Linked DNA regions of Homo sapiens: region 1 is linked to region 2. Evidence: fine-mapped expression QTL. Tissue or cell type: whole blood. Region 2 holds a variant in brackets; the other region holds the start of a gene. All regions are shown on one strand. Distances are between the middles of the regions.

Region 1 (2,651 bases), 130 kb before region 2:
TGGCCAATTTCACTTCAGTTTGCACCTGGCACAATCAACACTGGCAGAATTAACAAAACTAGACAAATATAGCCTCATGATCATTCATGCCTAGCTCTCGGTCAGTATTCAACTTCTTTCTTGTTCATGGTGTGTTACCCTAGGCAAGTCACTTCCCCTCCCTGGGTCTCCATCATCTCCTCAGTAAACTGGGAGCACAGAATAAAGCGCGTGGGAGGATTAAAGGGGACACTTTGGTCGCCCAACACTTGTTCACTGCATAACGATAATTCCAAGAGCGACATCACAGTAAAGACCCAGGCGCCGATCTAAGCGCGTTTCAGCCTCACGCGACGCCTACGAGGTTGAGCTGCGTCATCGGCCCCATTTCGTAGCGGAGGAAAGCGAGGCACTGGGCGGTCAGGCCGCTTGCCGGAGGTCGCCCAGCGTCCCAGCCGAGGACGCGGAACTCAGGGCCGGTCGGGTGTCAGCGCTCCGGAGCATGCGCAGAGGCAGCACGCCATCGGGGTCTTCAGGGGCCCGCGCAGTTCCTGGCGGGGTCGAACCCGAACTCACCCCGAGGGTCCTAACTCCCCACCTCCGCTGCCCATCCTCTCCAGCCCTATGGCGTCTACAAATCCAGACCTGCGGAAGCCCCAACTCACCCAGCGCCTCGCCCCGAGGAATCCGCCATTTTCCCGCCTTCCACCTCAAGGCCCGACCCGCCGGCTTTTCAAAGCCGGACCCGCCCCCTTGCTTGCGGGTCGGACCATTTGTGGAGACGCAGGAGGGGTGGCTGCGAGGCGTGAGGCAGCGCCGGCTAAGTGTGGAGAGCGCGGCCCCAGACGCGCGCTTCGCCTGTCCTCCCCTCGCACTTGGTCTCGCCCACCATCGGCGGTAGTGGGTAGGGGCGGTGGGTGGGACCTGATCTGTCGGACAGTAGGGGCGGGGCTTTTCGCGATGCCCCGCCCCTAGGAGCGCTGGCGTCACGCCCCCGTCCCCGCCTCTCCGGAACCCGGAAGCGGGAGCGCGCGGGGGAGCGGCGGGCGCGGCGGGGCGGAGCGGCTCGAGCAGCGGCGGGCTGGCAGGCGGTCGTCCGGCCGGGGACCCGGCCCGGGACCGGCGGCGCGCGGCGGCCGAGGCCAGGTGAGTACCAGGCAGCCTCGGGTTGGCGACTCGAGCTCGAAGCCTGCCTTTGGGGGCTGCGCAGAAGAGGGACGGAGCTGAGGGCTGATGGGGGACGCGACGGCAGGGGTCGAGGGGGCGGGAACGAGCCTGGGGGTCTTGGAGAGATTGCTGGGGATGAGGTGGAAGCGAGACGGTGAAGGAGAAAGTGGATGGGGATGGAGCTGGTGAGGGAGTTCGAGGGCGTGGGGGGGGTGAGTCTTGTGGCTTTGAGCAGCTTCTCTGAAGAGGACGTGGCTTAAGTGGTAATTGGGGGGTCGCAGGAAACGGCGTTGTGGGGAGGCACGGAGGCGGGAACGAGAGGCCCAGGCTGGGGGAGTGGGCAAGGCCAGGGGCGGGACAGCCGGGGTGCGGTTGAGGGGAAGGGGTGCGAGACCGATCTGGGGACGTCTGCCCGCGCGATTGAAGGAAGGGTGTCTGAGAAGAGGGCGGCGCCTGGCCCCCAGTGGGCGCTCAGTAAATGCGGGGGGTTCTGAACTAACTGATGCGGCAGCCGGCTATTGGGAAGCGGGGAAATGGGAGCTGGAAGGGAAGTAAACGGAGTAGAAGTCACGGTAAGAACTGAGGGTAGGCTTAGGGAGGGAGGGCCCGGAGAGGAGGGAAGAGAAGGAAGGGGTTAGAGTGGCCCCGTGCAGATAGATGTTGAGATGCAGCCCCTGGAGATTCCGTCCCCCCACCCTCCCCTCTTGATTCGTGTCCCTCCTGACTTCACACTTAACAGCTGGGTGACCTGGGACGAGTCCCAACACCCTCTGTGCCAGTGTCCTCGTCTTGGAAACTTCACCACCCTCCCCTTAAGACAGGACTAGCAGGATTCTGGGATTCCCTGGATCCAAGGAAGGGACCTCAGGGCCGGTTGTGGGGCCGGAACTGTGTTTCAGGAGGGAGTGTGCATGCACCCTCATGTACAGGACTGTCGCCACCTCCGCAGAGCTGCATCCTTGGACTTAAATGGGTAAAACGACATACAGGAAATCTGTCCCCCGGTTGCTCTGAGCTCAGCCCTGGAGAGGCACGACAGCCACGAGCCCTCCTTTCTTTCCTGGGCACCCTGGAGGCCAGGGGTCTTTAAGGGATGGCTTCTCTGCCTCTTTGTCTGAGGTGGGAGCCCGTGGGGACACTTTCCAGCCAGAGAGTCCCAACTCGGTTTGTTTTTTGATGTTGGAGTCTTCAGAATCTTAAGGTGTCCAGGAGCAGCCGGAGGTGACCTGGGCTACAGGAAAGTTATTCACATCTGACAGGCCTGGCTCTTGTGGCCCTGGCAGGGACTTTGTGCAGGGTGCTTTTGATTGGCATTCATTTCTCCCCTTTCCCAACTGTAGGGATCTTTATCTGGGATCTGCCAGAAGGGCTGGGGAACCCCAGCTTATGTTTAGTTTATAGCTCATTCAGGAGATGAACCCGGATAGCTGGAATATAAAGAGGGCCACAGAAAGATAAGCACCCCCTTCACTTCCAGAATATCCTGGCCTTTAGGAAAGGTGGCT
Region 2 (2,840 bases):
GGTGCGTGGAGATGCTGATCAAGGAGCAGATGAGGAAATACAAAGTGAAGATGGAGGAGATCAGCCAACTGGAGGCTGCAGAGAGTATCGCCTTCCGCAGGCTTTCGCTCCTGCGACAAAATGCTGTGAGTACCGGTGATCGTGGGGGCGGGACCTCTTTGGTGGGGCGGAGCCTGGTGCTGGGCAGGGCCTTGGGCGTGGCTTTGTTGCTGGGAAGGCTGGTGAGTGGGGTCTTGGTGGGCGGGGCCTTGGGTGGGCAGGACCTCCCATGCCGAGGATGGGACCGGGTAGTGGGTGTGGTCTCGGGTAGCAGGGCGGGGCCTCCCTTCCCAGTTCCCCGCCCACTCCTACCACACCCTTGGCCACAACCAGCCTGGCTGGGGCCACCAGGCCCTGCAGGTAGGGGCAGACTTACTGCCTTGAACGAAAGACGATGGTCCTCGCTCAGCCTCACTCCAATTATGTTCCTCTAGGTGGGGCAGGTAGGGGGACCAGCTTCCTGCTTGCTGGTGGTTCAGGTCATGCGTCCAGCCTTGTCCCTTCTGACCTGGGCCCTACCCACGGGGAAATGTTCCCATAGCAGAAGAATCAGCCCCACAGTGCAGGGGTGTGTTAGTGGGGAACGGGCTCTGGGCTCCTGTGGGAACCAGGGACCCCCTATCTTGGTACCGGTCATTGGATGTATCCCCAGCTCATGCCTGTGTCTGTCTTGGCCCGTGTGGTCACCCTGTGTTCATCTCTCTCCCAGCCATGGCCTCTCAAACTGGGGTTTTCGTCTCCCTATGAGGGGGTCCTGGTATGTACGCGTTCGGTGGGCCCGCGGTGCATGTCTCCCGGTGCAGTGCATGCTGGGGTTCCCTGGGGCCCTGGGCCCCTCGTAGGATAGACAGAGCCTGTCCTAACCTTCCGGAAGTGCATGCTGGGGAGGCCCCTTGCCTGCTGACCTTCTGTGCTCAGGACGACTAATCGGCCACATGACCACCACTCTGTCCCATGGGATTCCTAGAGAAGTCTCACTAAGAGCCCAGCACACTCACATCACAACTAACCTCCTGGGATCTGCTCACACCTCCGGCAGTAACCTCGCCCACTCAGAGATGTCAGTGGGACCCCTTGCTTCTTTGTTTCAGAACAAGAGCCCCAAGACCCGGGACATCCAGGAGGAGGAGCTGGAGGTGCTGCTGGAGGAGGAGGCAGCCGGCGGCGATGAGGACCGGGAAAAGGAGATTCTCATTGAACGGATCCAGTCCATCAAGGAGGAGAAGCAAGTGGCTCAGTCCCCTCCCTCAGTCCTTCATGTTTAGGGCAAGCTGGAGTGCAGGTTCCATCCCTGGTGGTCCGCTTGACCTCGCCAGGTTTGGTCCTGTCATCCCTAACACTGGGCAAACAACACTTTTTTTTTTTTTTTTTTTTTTTTTGAGACGGCGTCTCGCTCTGTCGCCCAGCTGGAGTGCAGTGGTGCTATCTCGGCTCACTGCAACCTCCATCTCCCGGGTTCAAGCGATTCTCTGCCTCAGCCTCCGAGTAGCTGGGATTACAGGTGCCCACCACCATGCCCTGCTAATTTTGTGTTTTTAATAGAGACAGGGTTTCACCACATTGGCCAGGCTGGTCTTGAACTCCTGACCTCAAGTGATCCACCCACCTTGGCCTCCCAAAGTGTTGGGATTACAGGC[G/A]TGAGCCACCGCACTCGGCCTTTATTTCTGAGACAGGGTCTTTCTCTGTCACCCAGGCTGGATTGCAGTGGTGCGATCACGGTTCACTGCAGCCACAATCCCCTAGGCTCACGGGGTCCTCCCACCTCAGCCTCCCCAGTAGCCGGAACCACAGGTGGTGCACACCACCACGCCTGGCTAATTTTTTTTACTTTTTGCAGAACAGGGTCCGCCTATGTTGCCCAGGCTGGGTTCAAACTCCTGGGCTCAAGCAATCCTCCTGCTTGGGGTGGGGGGAGGTTGGGGACACAGAGTTACATCTAGGAGCAGGACAGCCTGCTCTGTTCCACACTGGCCCAGCACTTCCGGTGGGGTGGCCTTGGACACCACTACCCTTTTTCCTCCAGGGAGGACATCACCTACCGGCTGCCGGAGCTGGACCCAAGGGGCTCGGACGAGGAGAACCTGGACTCGGAGACGTCGGCCAGCACCGAGAGCCTGCTGGAGGAGCGGGCCGGGCGGGGGGCCTCGGAAGGTCAGTATTAAGGTAGCGTCTGCTTTTCTCCTTCCCGTCCATCCCAGCAGGCCCCAGGGCGAGGGTCCTCCGGCTGCCGGCCCTGAAGCTGCAGTAACCCTGCCATCTGTCTCTCAAAAGGGCCCCCTGCGCCTGCTCTCCCTTGCCCCGGCGCGCCCACCCCGAGCCCCCTCCCCACCGTGGCCGCCCCTCCACGACGAAGGCCGTCGTCCTTCGTAACGGTCAGAGTGAAGACCCCCCGGCGGACCCCCATCATGCCCACGGCCAACATCAAGCTCCCACCAGGCCTGCCCTCCCACCTGCCTCGCTGGGCACCGGGTGCCCGGGAGGCGGCTGCCCCAGTGCGGCGCCGGGAGCCACCTGCCCGCCGCCCGGACCAGATACATTCCGTGTACATCACGCCCGGGGCAGACCTGCCAGTGCAGGGCGCCCTGGAGCCCCTAGAAGAGGATGGCCAGCCACCTGGGGCCAAGCGGAGGTACTCGGATCCCCCAACGTACTGCCTGCCCCCCGCCTCGGGCCAGACCAATGGCTGAGAGCCACAGCTGACAAAGTCTGCATGTCCGAGGACGGCCCCTGCACTGGAGCTGGGCGCCAGAGCTGCAGAGCTAGTGTTCGGCCCTCAGAGAAGGATCCAGAATCAAAAGCTC

Evidence for each region. PIP is the estimated chance that this variant, and not a neighbour inherited with it, causes the effect.
Region 1: MYO9B starts here. The variant in region 2 is fine-mapped to the expression of MYO9B in whole blood (TOPMed, PIP above 0.99).

What each region holds. Positions count from the first base shown.
Region 1 is chr19:17,074,750-17,077,400 of GRCh38, forward strand. MYO9B (myosin IXB) reads left to right here and starts at 1,028. Exons shown (of 40, transcript NM_004145.4): 1 at 1,028-1,125. HAUS8 (HAUS augmin like complex subunit 8) reads right to left here and starts at 703. Exons shown (of 11, transcript NM_033417.2): 1 at 645-703. The coding sequence starts at 673. RefSeq lists an enhancer at 446-645 and silencers at 826-1,175, 1,170-1,464.
Region 2 is chr19:17,209,585-17,212,424 of GRCh38, forward strand. MYO9B (myosin IXB) reads left to right here. Exons shown (of 40, transcript NM_004145.4): 36 at 2-125; 37 at 749-796; 38 at 1,131-1,264; 39 at 2,063-2,190; 40 at 2,311-2,840. The coding sequence ends at 2,726. Among named protein-coding and RNA genes, the nearest start is that of USE1, 4.4 kb to the right of the region's middle. RefSeq lists a silencer at 245-354 and an enhancer at 724-1,229. The variant G/A (reference allele first, on the strand shown) is at 1,677.